2 separate regions of the Homo sapiens genome follow, and region 2 is linked to region 1. The links come from fine-mapping of genetic effects on gene expression. A gene starts in region 1. The other region holds a variant in brackets. All regions are shown on one strand. Distances are from middle to middle.

Evidence for each region. PIP is the estimated chance that this variant, and not a neighbour inherited with it, causes the effect.
Region 2: its variant is fine-mapped to the expression of SLC52A2 in caudate (GTEx, PIP 0.97).

Annotation. Positions count from the first base shown.
Region 1 is chr8:144,354,148-144,362,515 of GRCh38, reverse strand. SLC52A2 (solute carrier family 52 member 2) reads right to left here and starts at 3,903. Exons shown (of 5, transcript NM_001363118.2): 1 at 3,451-3,903; 2 at 3,093-3,332; 3 at 2,023-2,893; 4 at 1,803-1,926; 5 at 1,244-1,713. The coding sequence starts at 3,222. The coding sequence ends at 1,501. CATSPERQ (catsper channel auxiliary subunit theta) reads left to right here and starts at 7,585. Exons shown (of 6, transcript NM_001280561.2): 1 at 7,585-7,674; 2 at 7,749-7,899; 3 at 8,185-8,279; 4 at 8,367-8,368. The coding sequence starts at 7,749. FBXL6 (F-box and leucine rich repeat protein 6) reads left to right here and starts at 4,044. Exons shown (of 9, transcript NM_012162.4): 1 at 4,044-4,484; 2 at 4,730-4,888; 3 at 5,014-5,077; 4 at 5,395-5,526; 5 at 5,601-5,708; 6 at 5,803-5,916; 7 at 5,985-6,216; 8 at 6,302-6,548; 9 at 6,838-7,085. The coding sequence starts at 4,069. The coding sequence ends at 6,985. RefSeq lists enhancers at 1,895-2,430, 5,652-6,188 and silencers at 3,642-4,081, 4,102-4,321, 8,035-8,144.
Region 2 is chr8:144,391,906-144,400,156 of GRCh38, reverse strand. It overlaps ADCK5 (aarF domain containing kinase 5), which reads right to left. Exons shown (of 15, transcript NM_174922.5): 10 at 8,135-8,216; 11 at 7,987-8,065; 12 at 7,812-7,903; 13 at 7,460-7,712; 14 at 7,265-7,381; 15 at 6,915-7,188. The coding sequence ends at 7,083. It overlaps CPSF1 (cleavage and polyadenylation specific factor 1), which reads left to right. Exons shown (of 38, transcript NM_013291.3): 10 at 72-165; 11 at 289-376; 12 at 447-569; 13 at 654-705; 14 at 784-881; 15 at 955-1,029; 16 at 1,119-1,199; 17 at 1,289-1,378; 18 at 1,519-1,632; 19 at 1,714-1,855; 20 at 2,025-2,203; 21 at 2,278-2,414; 22 at 2,496-2,670; 23 at 2,744-2,950; 15 more. The coding sequence ends at 6,839. It overlaps MIR939 (microRNA 939), which reads left to right and starts at 5,927; the gene lies at 5,927-6,008. It overlaps MIR1234 (microRNA 1234), which reads left to right; the gene lies at 1-71. RefSeq lists silencers at 4,249-4,462, 5,815-5,976. The variant C/T (reference allele first, on the strand shown) is at 4,608.

The sequences.
Region 1 (8,368 bases):
CCCCCTGGGAGCTGGCCTGCCCCCTGATGTTTGATGGGGCCCAGACTAGAGGCTTTCCGGGTCACAGGGGCTCCTTCCTCCTCTGATGGTCCTGCCAAGACAGGAGGGAGCAGAAGTGGGGAGGAAGACCAGGCCTTCAAAGGCCCGTGTGCAGGCCAACTCAAGGACAATGAGAAAGGGCCTCCGCAGAGCGGAACCGTCGCAGACAGAGCTTGGGCAGCAGGAACAGACCCACCATCCCCAGTGCCTGCACGCTCCCTGTAGCTGCAGGGGCCCTTCTGCAGAAGTGGGGCCTCTTGCCTGGGAGAATGGGCCTTGCTGCCAGGCCCGTCATACTGATCACAGTTCGGTGTCCTGCCTCCCTGGGGTGGCGGCCCACGAGGTGAAGAAAGCCAGGCTCCTACCTTGGCGTGGTCTCTCCCAGCACTTTCTTCCAGATCCTTGCTCCCAGGCTCAGGGGCTCCTCTCAGTTAGTTCCTTTGCAGCTCCAGCTCTTTTTGTGGGAGCCCAAGAACCACCCAGCCCAGGATAGACCATGGTCAGTGCTGAGGTCCTGCTCCCTGCAGATGCCAACACATACAGGCCCAGGCTGCTCAGGGCTAGGGGCAGTGTGCCAGCAGCCCAGGGAGAAGACAGCTGTAGCCAAGTCTGCCTGAAGAAACAGTTTGGGGCCTTTGGGGGTCTGATTGCAGGAGGAGCTGTCACTGAGAGGGTGGAGGCTCAGGGGAGTGGGGTAATGCTCAGGCCAAACGGTCCCGATGGGCTAAAACCTTAAACTCTGTCTCTTCTGAGTCCCCCTCACTGAGTACCCCGGTGCCTGCACACCAACCCCCTGGTGTAAATCCCTAGCAGGATACTCCTGGGAAGCTAGCAGGCAAACAGTCACTCCAGGGCTAAGGGTGGACAGGGGGCTCGGCACATCGCAGCCCCATCCGACTAACCCTCAGCCCTTGAGAGGTGCTCGTGGAGCAGTGGCCTTGCCGGGAAGAGGCTCCTCTACTCCTCTGACCACCGAAGCTGGTAGCTCGTGTGGGCCCAGAGAGCCCAGGGCAGTTCCAAGAAGCAATGTGGGGTAGTCTGGGCTCAGAGGGCATGACTGTACAATCCGTGAGACCAGCCTGTGGTGGGTAAGGACCTGCCCAGGGCCTGGGGAGAGGCAGCCTGTTAAACAGGCCAGGCCATGGCTCTAGTTCAGGGAAGCATCCACACAGAGAGATGTGCTCAAAGAATTAATGCCAACTCATTAAATACAAATGTTTTATTACGCAAACCACATGTAGGTCCCAGGCTCAGGGGCTTACCCTACAGCCCCCACTGGTCCCTGGCTCCAAGCCTGCTCCTTGCCCTTGCCCACCCTGGAAAGCCAGGATCTCCTATGGAGTGTGTAGGTGTCCACGAGTGTACCGGTGTGCGGGCCTCCTGGGCTGCAGGCACTCAGGCATGGTGGCAGCATTGAGGGAAAGACAGGTGTTGGGGAGCGGGGTCCCCACCTGCCCAGGCTCAGGAGTCACAGGGGTCTGCACAGTCCTTTCTGCTGTGGAACACGTGATAGATGCTGGTCGGGGGGAACATAGCAACAGCGCCGAGCAGAGAGCCCACCTGGATGGCCACGCCGGCTGCCAGCAATGCCGGCCGGCCCCCGCCATGCAGCAGGGAGCTGGCTGCCACCTTCACGTAGGAGAACACGCCAAGACACAGCACCCACGACAGCACCTGAGGGGGACACAGCACCAGCTGAGCGTGAGATGTGCCTGCTCCAGGGCAACGCCCCCCCACCCCACTTCATGTCCCCCTGTGCTCACCACGAGGACCACCCCCGCCGAGGTGCCCACCAGGGGCGGGCAGGGGCTCAGGACTGCCAGCGCCATCAGGTAGCCCCCACAGAACACGCCCAGCAGAGAGAGGCCGCCCAGCCCTGCCAAGGACCTGCAGTGAGCGAGCAGAATGTCAGGGCTGACTGCGCCAGGACCTGGCTCCTAGCCCTGAGTTCCACCCGCACAGGGGCTGGGGGTCCTTGTGTACCTGCACAGCACACCCATGGCCAGGAAGCAGGCCAGGGGATTGGCAGCACTGCCCAGCACCACAGCCAGGTGGTAGGCCAGACGCCCGTAGGGTAAGCAGGAAAAGCTCTGCACGGCAGGCAGCACGCCATTGGTCAGCGCGTTGGTGGCGGCCAACAGGCCCAGCAGGCAGGCACTGCGGGCTGATAGAAGCTGATAGGCCTTAGGGTCTGGACCAGGGGTGGTGCCTGCTGCCTGGCTTGGTGGCTCTTGCAGTGGTGAGGACTCTTCCACCTCTTCCTCTGCTCCTGGGGCTCCCACCTGGAGGCCTGATCCTAACTCCCCTGTGGGTACAGATGGTGGTGGCGGCAACAGCAGCAGAAGACCCTGGAAGGCAGCAGCTGAAGCGACCAGAAGGGCAGTCAGTGCCCAGAAGAAGGTGCTGGCGGGAAAACGCTCAAGGAAGTCGAGCGGGGGGCCAGGGGTGCCGTTGATGGGGGCTGGCGGGCACTCGAGGCGGCCCACACCCTGCACTAGGGCCAGCACGCAGGGCAGCAGGGCACTCAGGCCTTGACCCAGGAAGAATGACCGTAAGAAGCGAGGTGGCAGGTGGCTCAAGAAGGGCAGGAAAGTGACATTCGAGGCACAGCATGCCAGTGCCAGCACAAAGGCCAGTGCTAAGAAGGCCACAGAATGCAACTGTCCTGCCACTGGGGCCACATGGTGCCACAGAGAGGCCAGCAGGGCTGTGCCCACCATGCCCAGCACCTGCACCACCCGGATGGGGACCTGCTCGTCCTTTCCTGGGGCCAGCCTCCTCCAGAGGGTCACCACCAGCAGACCCAGGTTCCCCAGAGCCACAAGCACAGAGACGTAAGAGGGGAGGCTCCAACCTGCAGGGAAGGGAGGAGGCCATGTCAGGGTCATGATGCCCAAGGGAGGAAGAGTGCCAAAGCCCACCTTCCTGGGCACACCTGCACCTCCTCCCACTCACCCTCTGGAAGCTCTCTGACCACCACAGGTAGCTCCACCCAGATCCCACTGACCGCAGCCCAGGAGTCTTGGGCACACCTGCACCTCCCTCCCACTCACCCTCTGGAAGCTCTTTGACCACCACAGGTAGCTCCACCCAGATCCCATTGACCGCAGCCCAGGAGCCCATGCCGAAGAGAGCCACCAGCAGGTGGGTCAGCACCGGACGGGCGGGCGTGGGTGCTGCCATTCAGCCCAAGGCTGGGCCCTTCCAGGTCAGGGCAAAGGTCACAGCCAGTTCTTTTCCCACCTAGGGCCAGACACGCTTTGGCTCTCCTGGGAAGTGAAGACTTCTTCTAGCTTGAAAGAAACAGAGAAACAGATAGGATGCAGAGCCGGAGTCAGAACAGGGTGAGACCAGGGGAACTGGGGGAGCCCCGGGCAGGAGCGCAGATGGGGAGGATTGGCTAAAACGTACCCAGCGGGACCGCCGGCAGGCAGGGAAGCAGGAAGCCGGCCCGAGTCGCTGCGGCCCCAGGGGAGGAGGCCGAAGGAGCGAGTGGAGCCCTCCTCTCCAGGGAGAGGCGGGGCTGGAGTCAACGCCACCACCACCCCAAGCCGGACGCCGGGAAAGGGCGCCTACCAGGAGGAGCCACGCACACCCCAGGGCTTCACGGTGCCCGCGACCGCAAGAGCCAAGTCAGATCCCAGGGGAGTGGCCGGGACGGCTCTGCTCGGAGGGGCGCCGCCCTCTCGGTACCGTCAGGTGGGCGACTCGGGAGCCGTCCGGTCCCTGCGCCTCCCGGTCCCGCGCCCAGTGCGCTCCCGCTCCAGTGCCGGCTTCCCGCCACGCCGGGACACCGCCGTCCGGCCCAGGGACGCCACCTCAGTCCGGAGCGCGCAGGACCCGGCAGCAGCCACGACCCGACTCACCCGTGGCGGTTCCGGGCCCGCCCCCGGCATGGCCCACGACCGGAAGTCCCGCCCCGGAAGCTGGTCGGCGGGCGGGCGGGCGTTGAGAGGAACCGGGGGGTTGTCGGTCTATAAGCCTCGCCCGTTCCGCTCCCTGGGGCTTCCCCGAGCGCCGTCGGTGGTCATGGCTGCCCCAGCCTCCCGGCAGGTCCGACGCAGAGCCCGGGCAGCGCCGCGGCCCCGCTCGGCCGAGGACTGGTGGTGGGACCGGCTGGCGCCGAGGGGCTCGGGGTACCACCTGCTGCAGTCCGACAGCATGCTGCTGGTGCTGTCCGAACCCGGCCCCGCCCGGCCCCGCGCACAGCGGCGCGCTTCCCGCCGCACTCCCCGGCAGCCGCCCCGGGGCCCCAGCGCCGCGGCCAAGCCCAAGGCCGGGCTCAGGTCCGAGGCGGCGGCCGCGCCCGCACCCGCACCGGCACCCACGCCCACGCCCGAGGAAGGGCCCGACGCGGGCTGGGGAGACCGCATTCCCTTGGAAATCCTGGTGCAGATTTTCGGGTTGTTGGTGGCGGCGGACGGCCCCATGCCCTTCCTGGGCAGGTAACGCTGGTGCCGGGCCCGCCGCCGAGCGTAGCGGCTTGGGCCAGACGTGGTCCGAGCGGTGGCCCGGGCGGGGGCGGAGGGCGAAAGCATCGGAGCGCGCACCGCTCAGTCCGAGAGCGCAGCCCCTTAGGCGCCCAGTTGGAGTCCCAGGAGCCCGGCTTTGAGCCGGGGTGTCTACTGCGCTGCGAGAGGGGGGCATCGCCTACGGAGGGGCCGGCACCCTCAGCACGCTGTCCTCCCAGGGCTGCGCGCGTGTGCCGCCGCTGGCAGGAGGCCGCTTCCCAACCCGCGCTCTGGCACACCGTGACCCTGTCGTCCCCGCTGGTCGGCCGGCCTGCCAAGGGCGGGGTCAAGGCGGAGAAGAAGCTCCTTGCTTCCCTGGAGTGGCTTATGCCCAATCGGTGAGGGGTTCCCTCTCTTCCTTACCCCTGGCTCCAGGCTCCTTCCGTCTCCCTGCACCAAGGTGTTGGGTGGGAAGGACTCGTGTGGGAACATTAGTGCAGCTCTGCCTCCGCTGTCGGCCCAGGTTTTCACAGCTCCAGAGGCTGACCCTCATCCACTGGAAGTCTCAGGTACACCCCGTGTTGAAGGTGAGAGCTCCAGGCTGTCCTGCACATCAGCTGTGACACTCTGGGACTGTTCAGTACTCTAGGAAGTGGGTCAGGCACCTTGGGGGCCCAACGCTGCTCCGTGGGGATGTCTGCCTGCCTGCCTGGTTCTCTTTTCCTGCTGTTTCCTCCAGCAGGGAGGTATCAGAGGCGGGGACACCCAAGTAGGCCTGGCATGGGCAGAAAGGAGGTCACAGCTAAGGCGGTAGAGTGGGGTTGGCACCAGCCACTTGTCTGTTTCCCTTGTGGATCTTAGCCTGTCGTCTCCCAACCCCAGCTGCCCCTCTGTCTCCCCGCAGCTGGTAGGTGAGTGCTGTCCTCGGCTCACTTTCCTCAAGCTCTCCGGCTGCCACGGTGTGACTGCTGACGCTCTGGTCATGCTAGCCAAAGCCTGCTGCCAGCTCCATAGCCTGGACCTACAGCACTCCATGGTGAGCCCTGTGTCCCAAGGGGCCCTGAAAAAACCCAGGCCGGGGTGACGGGTGCTCTTGTATTGGGGCCCCAGGTGGAGTCCACAGCTGTGGTGAGCTTCTTGGAGGAGGCAGGGTCCCGAATGCGCAAGTTGTGGCTGACCTACAGCTCCCAGACGACAGCCATCCTGGGCGCACTGCTGGTAAGTTGGCATTGGTGGGAGCAGAGGCAGATGCTGAGCTGGGGACTGCCAGGCCACTGACCCTGTGACCTACCCCCTCCCCCCATCTCTGCAGGGCAGCTGCTGCCCCCAGCTCCAGGTCCTGGAGGTGAGCACCGGCATCAACCGTAATAGCATTCCCCTTCAGCTGCCTGTCGAGGCTCTGCAGAAAGGCTGCCCTCAGCTCCAGGTACCTGGCGCCCTGCCTCTCCCACCTGTCACACCCTCCCCCATCTACAGCCTGGACCTTGCCCCCAGGTGCTGCGGCTGTTGAACCTGATGTGGCTGCCCAAGCCTCCGGGACGAGGGGTGGCTCCCGGACCAGGCTTCCCTAGCCTAGAGGAGCTCTGCCTGGCGAGCTCAACCTGCAACTTTGTGAGCAACGAGGTCCTGGGCCGCCTACTCCACGGCTCTCCCAACCTGCGCTTACTGGATCTTCGTGGCTGTGCGCGCATCACGCCGGCTGGCCTTCAGGATCTGCCATGTCGGGGTCAGCAGTCCTGGGTGGTGGCCGGGCGGGTGAGGTGTGGGGGCCCTTGTCACCTTGTAGCTTATGCTCACTCCTTTCACTGCAGAGCTGGAGCAGCTTCATCTGGGCCTGTATGGCACGTCAGACCGGCTGACTCTAGCCAAGGAGGGCAGCCCCTTTTTGACCCAGAAGTGGTGCCATACACTGCGAGAACTGGACTTGAGTGGCCAGGGGTTCAGTGAGAAGGACCTGGAGCAGGCCCTGGCTGCCTTCTTAAGCACCCCTGGGGGCTCACACCCAGCCCTGTGCTCTCTTAACCTCAGGGGCACCCGGGTCACACCAAGCACTGTCAGGTCAGCATCCCCTACCCCAGTCCCTGGAGCCAGTGTGGCTGTCACTGTGTCTGCCTGGGGCCTGGAAGTTGTGTCCTGCCTGGCCTGAGACCTCCAGGGGTCAGAGGGGCATGCATACTGTCCAAGCCCCTGCGTGGGGTGGGCCTGAGGACACCAGGGGAACTGGGCTTGGCCTTGGTGGCTATGGGTGGCAGAGCCAGGTGTCGAACACCAGCAGGCACAGCTCCCTAGCCTGGCCCAGCCCTTCTGAGGCAACAGCTCAACTTCCTGTGGTCTGCCCTCCCCACAGCTCTGTGATCAGCGGCTGCCCGGGCCTGCTCTACCTCAACCTGGAGTCCTGCCGCTGCCTTCCCCGGGGTCTGAAGCGGGCCTACCGGGGCCTGGAGGAAGTCCAGTGGTGTCTGGAGCAGCTGCTCACCAGCCCCTCACCCAGCTAGGCAGCCACAGACCTGGGACACCTCAGCCAGCTTGCCCACCCTCCACCTTTGCCCAATTTCAGATATTTGAGCATTTTGTTAAAATAAAACATTTTTAGGAGTTCTGTGTGTGTGGTCCTCAGGGTAGGGTTGGGCAACAGGTTATACCTGATGGAGCCACTGGGGCTACAGCCGGCCCAGAGCCTGTGTGTTGTGGGGTCAGGGTGGTCCCATGGGCTCTTGAGCCTGCAGGTGGCCATGCCTTTGCCTGCCCACTGCTGGGTCCAGTGTGTGTGTTCCGTCCTCGGGGACACTGGTGAGCTTGTCTGTGGTTGCATGTGGGTGGGGGGTGGGAGGGGGTGGGGCCCCGCCCAGCTGTGGGGCTCACTGAGTGGTCGCCGCCTGCAAATTTCTCTCCAGCTCAGGCCTAGGGTGTCCACCCATCCACCCTTCACATGGGGACTGTGAACAGGCCATACAGGGGGCCTCCAGTGGATGGACTGGCCAAGAAGTTAATGCCTACCGCAGGACCTCACCCTGGACTCCCTAAGAGGTGGTCAACAGAGCAGCCCCTTCTAGAACCTGCCCAGAACTTCTAGAACCCATCCGCGGTCCACCCTGGGCCGCTCCCTGGCCTCGCTGCCCTGTCAGTCGCCTGTGAGCTCCTGCTCCTTCCTGGGCCTGCAGCCCTGGAGAATTTGCTCACCGAGGTAGGAGTGCCGCTGTGGGCAGTGGGCGGCGGCAGCGGACGAGCGGCCAGGCTGACCACCTCTGCCTGACTCAGATGCCTAAGGGCCGGGCCGGCAGCCTGCCCACGACCTCCATCGGCTGGCGCTTCCAGCTCTGGTTCCTAGGACTCACCTGCCCGGAGCGCCACCTGGCCAGACGCCTCAAGAACAATAGCTTCTACCCATTCGTGCAGCAGGAGCCAAACGGTGCGCGCGAGGCTGGGCGGGGCGGGGCGGGGCGGGGCTGGGAAGGGCGGGGCGGGGGAGGAGGGAGACGGGCCCGAGGCCTGAATGGGGCGGAGCCAGGTGGGCAGAGGCAGGGCCAGGGCCCTGGGTGGGGCCGGCCGGTGCTCCTGGGGACGGAGAGGCCGCAGGCGAGACGTCGCCTCCGCGAGCCCTGCGCGGACCCAGCTAGTCCGGGCCAAGCCTTGGCACCGCCACCCCCGGCTGCGGGCAGGGCCGGGGCGTCCTCACGCGCCGCGCCACCCCCAGTCTTCGTGCTCGAATACTACCTGGACACACTGTGGAAGGGGATGCTGCTCTTCATCATCAGCGTGGTCCTGGTCAGCTTCAGCTCCCTGAGAGAGGTGTGAGCCCCTGGGCCCGACCCCCACCGCCCTCCTCCCCTGAGGGCCGGCCCCGCGCCGCTCAGACTCTCCGCGTGGCGCCCGCAGGT
Region 2 (8,251 bases), 38 kb before region 1:
GGGTGGCTGGGGCGGGGGGGGCCCGGGGACGGCTTGGGCCTGCCTAGTCGGCCTGACCACCCACCCCACAGGCACCCAGGAGGGTGTGCGGATCACCCTGGACTGCGCCCAGGCCACCTTCATCTCCTACGACAAGATGGTCATCTCCCTCAAGGGCGGCGAGATGTGAGCCCCTCCCCCGCCCATGAACTCTGCCCACACCGCCCCCCACAAGTCCTGTAGGGTCCCCTGGCCCCCTTCACTCCCCCAGGGTCCCCATCCCCGACTCAGAATTCTCCCTGCCCCCAGCTACGTGCTGACCCTCATCACCGACGGCATGCGCAGTGTCCGAGCGTTCCACTTTGACAAGGCGGCCGCCAGCGTCCTCACCACCAGCGTGAGTTGGGACTAGGGGTTGGGTCTGGGTCCAGACCCGGCCCAGCCATCACACACCTGCCCTCCCTCAGATGGTCACCATGGAGCCCGGGTACCTGTTCCTGGGTTCTCGCCTGGGCAATTCCCTCCTCCTCAAGTACACGGAGAAGCTGCAGGAGCCCCCGGCCAGTGCTGTCCGTGAGGCTGCCGACAAGGTGGGTTTCCTGGGCCCATTGGGCCACCACCCTTCATGTGGGCACTGCTGTGGCATGCCACTCAGTGCCCCTCCTGCCTCACAGGAAGAGCCTCCCTCAAAGAAGAAGCGAGTGGATGCGACGGCCGGCTGGTCAGGTGAGGGCCGGTCCAGGGCTGGTCAGGAGCGGGGCCAGGTGACCCAGGGCTGCGCTCAAGTGGGCTCTCTGTGTGCAGCTGCGGGTAAGTCGGTGCCGCAGGATGAGGTGGACGAGATTGAAGTGTACGGCAGCGAGGCCCAGTCGGGAACACAGCTGGCCACCTACTCCTTTGAGGTGAGATTGAGGCAGCAGGGCCCCCGTCCCAGCCAGCGCCCCCAGCGGGCCCCTGACTCTTGCTGTGCCGCAGGTGTGTGACAGCATCCTGAACATTGGACCCTGTGCCAATGCCGCCGTGGGCGAGCCTGCCTTCCTCTCTGAAGAGGTGCCCAGGGTTGGGGTCGGGGCTGGGGGCAGGGGCTGGAGTGTGAGGGGGGGTGGGGGGCATAGTCCTCACCCCCGAGTCCTGTGCAGTTTCAGAACAGCCCCGAGCCGGACCTGGAGATTGTGGTTTGCTCCGGCCACGGGAAGAACGGGGCTTTGTCGGTGCTGCAGGTGTGTGGGCAGGTAGGGGGCGGGCGCCTCCTGGTGGGACCTGGGTGGGCTCACACCCCCATCACACCCCCACCCCATCATCATTCTAGAAGAGCATCCGGCCCCAGGTGGTGACAACCTTTGAGCTTCCCGGCTGCTATGACATGTGGACAGTCATCGCCCCGGTGCGTAAGGAGGAGGTAGGTGCGAGCCTGCTGCAGGGAGGCCCTGGGATGGGACCGGCGCTGCCTTCTCATAGGCCGGGGGTGCCCAGGTCGCACCTGCGTGCCTGCCTTCACTGGACTGTGGCTTCCAGCCTGCCCCCCTTTGGCCCTGACAGGAGGACAATCCCAAGGGGGAGGGCACAGAGCAGGAACCCAGCACCACCCCTGAAGCAGACGACGACGGCCGCAGACACGGATTCCTGATTCTGAGCCGGGAAGACTCCACCATGGTGAGGGGCAGGGCCTGGGACCTGGGACCTGGGGCTGGGGTCCCCTGCGGGGGGCGCCTCCCTCACAGCTGTCGCCCGCAGATCCTGCAGACGGGGCAGGAGATCATGGAGCTGGACACCAGTGGCTTCGCCACTCAGGGCCCCACGGTCTTTGCTGGGAACATCGGGGACAACCGCTACATTGTCCAAGTGTCACCACTGGGCATCCGCCTGCTGGAAGGAGGTAGGTGGGGGGGGTGGTTGGGCCCTGGGCATCTGCCTGCTGGAAGGAGGTAGGTGGGTGGGGACGGTGGGGGGGAGGTGGTTGGGCCCTGGGCATCCGCCTGCTGGAAGGAGGTAGGTGGGTGGGGACGGTGGTGGGGAGGCGCATGCTGACTGCCCCATGCCTACAGTGAATCAGCTGCACTTCATCCCCGTGGACCTGGGCGCCCCCATCGTGCAGTGCGCCGTGGCCGACCCCTATGTGGTCATCATGAGTGCCGAGGGCCACGTCACCATGTTCCTGCTGAAGAGTGACTCCTACGGTGGCCGCCACCACCGCCTGGCGCTGCACAAGCCCCCGCTGCACCATGTAGGCCCCCTCATTCCCGGCGCCCTCCTGTCCCTGCCCCTTGCCCGCCGCTGAGCCCACCCCTCTCCCCGCAGCAGTCCAAGGTGATTACGCTGTGCCTGTACCGAGACCTCAGCGGCATGTTCACCACTGAGAGCCGCCTGGGTGGGGCCCGTGACGAGCTCGGGGGCCGCAGTGGCCCGGAGGCCGAGGGCCTGGGCTCAGAGACTAGGTGCGTGGGGGCTGGGGGCGCAGGTAGGGGCTTGGGTCCCTGGGGCTGGCAGGCCGCCCATGACCTTCTGCTGGCCCCCAGCCCCACAGTGGATGACGAGGAGGAGATGCTGTATGGGGATTCGGGCTCCCTCTTCAGCCCCAGCAAGGAGGAGGCCCGAAGAAGCAGCCAGCCCCCTGCTGACCGGGACCCTGCACCCTTCCGGGCAGAGCCTACCCACTGGTGCCTGCTGGTGCGGGAGAATGGCACCATGGAGGTAGGTGGTGCCCTGCACTGTGGCCCAGCGGGTTCCACCCACCTGCCTCCACTGACTGCTGCCCACCCTGCAGATCTACCAGCTTCCCGACTGGCGGCTGGTGTTCCTGGTGAAGAACTTCCCTGTGGGGCAGCGGGTCCTTGTGGACAGCTCCTTTGGACAGCCCACTACACAGGGCGAGGCCCGCAGGGAGGAGGCCACGCGCCAGGGGGAGCTGCCCCTCGTCAAGGAGGTGCTGCTGGTGGCGCTGGGCAGCCGCCAGAGCAGGCCCTACCTGCTGGTGAGTGCGCCTGGCCTGGCCTCCCCTTCCCATCTTCCCCCTGGCCCTGCCCGTTCCCCCACAGCCCCGCCCCTTCCCGTGGCTCCACCCCATCTCCCCCACGGCCCCGCCCCTTCCCGTGGCTCCACCCCATCTCCCTCACAGCCCCGCCCCTTCCCATACATGGCTCCACCCCATCTCAGCCCCGCCCCTTACCCACAGCCCACCTCTTCCCATGGCCCATCCCATGTTCTCCATGGCCCTGCCCGTTCCCCCATGGCTCCCCTCATCCTGCCAGGTGCATGTGGACCAAGAGCTGCTTATCTACGAGGCCTTCCCCCACGACTCTCAGCTCGGCCAGGGCAATCTCAAAGTCCGCTTTAAGAAGGTGCCAGTGGCTGGACTGCTGGGGCGTGGGGTGGGTGTGGTACAAGGTGTGGGTTTCAGACCGGCAGCCCCTGGAGGACCTGCATGGTTCCCCCCCAGGTCCCTCACAACATCAACTTCCGTGAGAAGAAGCCAAAGCCATCCAAGAAGAAAGCAGAAGGTGGCGGCGCAGAGGAGGGGGCTGGGGCCCGGGGCCGCGTGGCGCGTTTCCGCTACTTCGAGGATATTTATGGCTACTCAGGGGTAGGCCAGCGCCTTTGCAGGGGTCTGTGGTAGAAGGGAGACGCGGCCTCATCCGCAGCATCCTCATCCACAGCATCCTCACGGTGCCTGCCCCCAGGTCTTCATCTGCGGCCCCTCCCCTCACTGGCTCTTGGTGACCGGCCGAGGGGCTCTGCGGCTACACCCCATGGCCATCGACGGCCCGGTCGACTCTTTCGCTCCATTCCACAATGTCAACTGTCCCCGCGGCTTCCTGTACTTCAACAGACAGGTGGGGCCCGGCCGGTTCCCAGCAGCACTGGCTGATGCTGCCCCAGCTGGGGGCTGAGGGGGAGGGGACAGGAGAAGGGACCATTGGCTCCACCCTGAGGACCAGGAAGGAGTGTCCAGAGGGCGATGGGGTTGAGGTCGAGGAGGTGGAACCTGTGACTTGGTTGCTCCAAAGGTCTGGAAAGGGGTGGTTGGGAGCTGGGGCTGCAGCCCCTGGGGTCCCCACCACTGCTCTGCCGGCTCGCCGGGCAAGCCCTCGCAGGGCCTGGCCTCCACACTTCTCAGGAGAGCTGACGTGAGTGCTAGCTCTGCCCCTTGGCTGCTCTGTGACTTTGGGAGGGCACACAGGCTTTCTCATCCTGGTTCCCTATTTAAGCCACCACACCACCAGGTCACTTGAGACCCTGCCTGGGATGCGGTGAGTGCTTCCTGGGTGCCTGAGGACTCAGGACTGTCCATGAAAGAGGGCAGCCCTGGCTCCCTCTGCCTGGTTTTCAGTCCCCAGCATGGCAGTCTGTGGGCTGCCCTTTGCAGCCTCCAGTGCCCTCCTGGCCTAGCTTTCCCATCCCCTGTGGCCAGCACCCCTAGCCCCAGCTGAGCGTGGGAAAATGGACAGGAGGAGCCCCAGAGGCTGAGTGGCAGCCCCTTCCAGGACCTCGCCAGGACACAGCTGCCCCTCACCCACCCCTGCTCCCACAGAGCTGAGGGCAACATCCCAGGGCTCTTGGCGGCCTGGGCCTGCCTGCCCCTGCCCTTGGCTAGCCCTGGATCCCCTGACCCCTGTGCCCCCACCCCAGGG[C/T]GAGCTGAGGATCAGTGTCCTGCCTGCCTACCTGTCCTATGATGCCCCATGGCCTGTCAGGAAGATCCCGCTGCGCTGCACGGCCCACTATGTGGCTTACCACGTGGAGTCTAAGGTCTGCCCCCACCCCCACCCCACCAGGGACCTTCTGGGCCTGGCCGGGCCACTGGTGTGTGACCCTCACTAACCCACAGGTGTATGCTGTGGCCACCAGCACCAACACGCCGTGTGCCCGCATCCCACGCATGACTGGCGAGGAGAAGGAGTTTGAGACCATCGAGAGAGGTGGTGACGCCCACACCATACTCCCATCCTCAGCCGCATCTTGGGGAAGCCCTACTCTGACTGTCACCCTTGGTCCCCACAGATGAGCGGTACATCCACCCCCAGCAGGAGGCCTTCTCCATCCAGCTCATCTCCCCGGTCAGCTGGGAGGCTATTCCCAATGCCAGGTGAGGCTGGGCCGGCGGGGGTGGGGTCTGCCCAAGGCCTCCAGGCAGCATCCTGAGGCCCCTGGCCCCCACAGGATCGAGCTGCAGGAGTGGGAGCATGTGACCTGCATGAAGACAGTGTCTCTGCGCAGTGAGGAGACCGTGTCGGGCCTCAAAGGCTACGTGGCCGCCGGGACCTGCCTCATGCAGGGGGAGGAGGTCACGTGCCGAGGGCGGGTAAGGGGCCAGTGAGCGGGGGCGGGAACTGGCAGCCCCTCTGCCATCCCCACAGCCATCCCACAGCCATACCCATGCCCTCCAGATCTTGATCATGGATGTGATTGAGGTGGTGCCCGAGCCTGGCCAGCCCTTGACCAAGAACAAGTTCAAAGTCCTTTACGAGAAGGAGCAGAAGGGGCCCGTGACCGCCCTGTGCCACTGCAATGGCCACCTGGTGTCGGCCATCGGCCAGAAGGTGTGCCAGTCCCACCCGGCGTGTGTCCCCCGGCTCACCCTCACCCGGCTCCCCGTCCGCGCCCGCTCACCCTCGCCCTCGCCCCCAGATTTTCCTGTGGAGCCTGCGGGCCAGCGAGCTGACGGGCATGGCCTTCATCGACACGCAGCTCTACATACACCAGATGATCAGCGTCAAGAACTTCATCCTGGCAGCCGACGTCATGAAGAGCATTTCGCTGCTGCGCTACCAGGAGGAAAGCAAGACGCTGAGCCTGGTGTCGCGGGTACACCTGTGGCGGCGGTGCTCGTGTCTGGGTGGGTACCCGCCCAAGGCACCTCTGACGCCCCCTTCCCGCCCCCAGGATGCCAAGCCCCTGGAGGTGTACAGCGTGGACTTCATGGTGGACAATGCCCAGCTGGGTTTTCTGGGTATGTGGGCAGGGCCCTGGGGAGCTGAGGCTCTGGGGGTGGCCGGGGCTGACCCTGGGCCTCTGCTCCCCAGTGTCTGACCGCGACCGCAACCTCATGGTGTACATGTACCTGCCCGAAGGTGAGTGCTTCCTCCACCCCCTCTGCCTGGGCCGGGGCTGGGCTAGCAGTGACCCCTAGGCCTTTCTGGTCTAGCCAAGGAGAGTTTCGGGGGCATGCGCCTGCTGCGTCGGGCAGACTTCCACGTGGGTGCCCACGTGAACACGTTCTGGAGGACCCCGTGCCGGGGGGCCACTGAAGGGCTCAGCAAAAAGTCGGTCGTGTGGGAGAATAAGCACATCACGTGGTTTGGTGAGTGTGGGGGAGCAGGTGTGTCTGGGTGGGGGGCCCTAGGGTTGGCCTGGCTCACACCAAAACCCTCACCCTACCCCTGCCAGCCACCCTGGACGGCGGCATCGGGCTGCTGCTGCCCATGCAGGAGAAGACCTACCGGCGGCTGCTGATGCTGCAGAACGCGCTGACCACCATGCTGCCACACCACGCCGGCCTCAACCCCCGCGCCTTCCGGTGAGCCCCGGCCCCGCCCCCGTGCAGCACCCCCTCCACCCCAGCCTGCCCTGACACCTGTGCCTGTACGCCCCAGGATGCTGCACGTGGACCGCCGCACCCTCCAGAATGCCGTGCGCAACGTGCTGGATGGGGAGCTGCTCAACCGCTACCTGTACCTGAGCACCATGGAGCGCAGCGAGCTAGCCAAGAAGATCGGCACCACACCAGACATAGTGAGTGCGCGCCCCGCCCCCCGCGCGCCCCGCCCCTCCGTGTGCATCCCCACCCACCCACCCACCCACCCTTCCATCCCCTGCAGATCCTGGACGACTTGCTGGAGACGGACCGCGTCACCGCCCACTTCTAGCCCCGTGGATGCCGTCACCACCAGCACACGGAACTACCTCCCACCCCCTTTTTGTACAAAACACAAGGAAAAACATTTTTTGCTTGAGAGGAGTGTGTGGTCATTACACGGCCTCCTGGCCCAGCTGCTGTCACAGCCCCCCAGTGCGAGTGCCCACGGGGCTCGGGGTGTCTACACCTCTAGCCCCGCCACCTCCGTCAGCCCAAGGTGAAAAGGGCCCCGCCGGCCCTGGGCGGCTGCACCCTAGGTCTCCAGGTACTGGTAGAGCTCCTCCGCTGGGGGCACGAGGCTCAGGTGGACCAGAGCACGAGCCAGGAGGGCGGTCAGCCGCATGGCCAAGGTCTCCAGCCTGCGTGGGTCAGGTCACAGGTCACAGGTGGGTGGGGAGCAGGCCCCCGCCACCCACCTGCCCCGCGGCCACTCACCTGAGCGCCACTTCAAACTTGAGCATCTCCCAGACGACCTTGGCGTGGCGCAGGAGGCTGGTGCCGTAGACACCCCGATACGTGGCGCCCGCCAGGCGGCTCCAGCCCCGGACAGCCCTGCACACACCCGCGTTAGCGCCGCGTCAGCCCCACACCAGCCCCACCACGGCCCGGGCGCCTCCTCGGGCCACCGACCTTTTAGCCATAAGGAAGTAGCGGTCCACGGGGGCGCCGAGGGCCACGTTGATAGCGCGCACGGTGTTGATGTTGCGCAGCACCAGCAGCATGGGCCGCGGCAGCTCCCTGAGCACCGCCATGACGGCCTCGAAGCGCTCGCGGGCCATGTCCACCATGTAGGCCGCCTCTTCGCGGCTCAGTAGGTGCGAGCCCCACAGCTGCCCCAGGCGCACGGGGCGCTGCATGAGCATCTCGGCGAACAGGAGGTAGTCTGGGGAGGGAGGGAGGGAGGGAGGGAGGGGGCTCTGAGTGGGTTCCGCGCCGCCCGACTCCCTTCTGTGGTGCCCCAGCCATCCCCGCACGCCCTCACCTTGCACCCCCAGTGCGGCTGCGTGCGCCCTCATGGCGGCGTCGTCCCGCAGGATGATGGCCCGCCACAGCTGGCAGAGGGCTGCGCGGTCCCTGGGTGTGGATGGGCCCGCAGCCATGAGCTCCCTGCGGCAGGAGAGGCTTGCCCTGCCCCACGCCCACCCACCCGCGCTCACTTCTCCTCCAGGAACTGGTAGAGCCCGTGGTCCAGCAGCACCAGCTCCGCTTTCCCGTCCGGGCCTTTCCGCACCAGAACTAGGGATACAGCCTCTTAGGTCGCGCTGCGCCCACCCTGAGACCCCCACCCCTGGGGTAAATTCCTACCGTTGCCAGGATGTGGGTCCGAGTGGATGAAGCCGGTGTAAAATATCTGCTCAGCAAAGGCCTTGATGAGCTTTTCTGCTATCTGGGGAGAGGAGAGGCATTGCAGTGGACACAGCA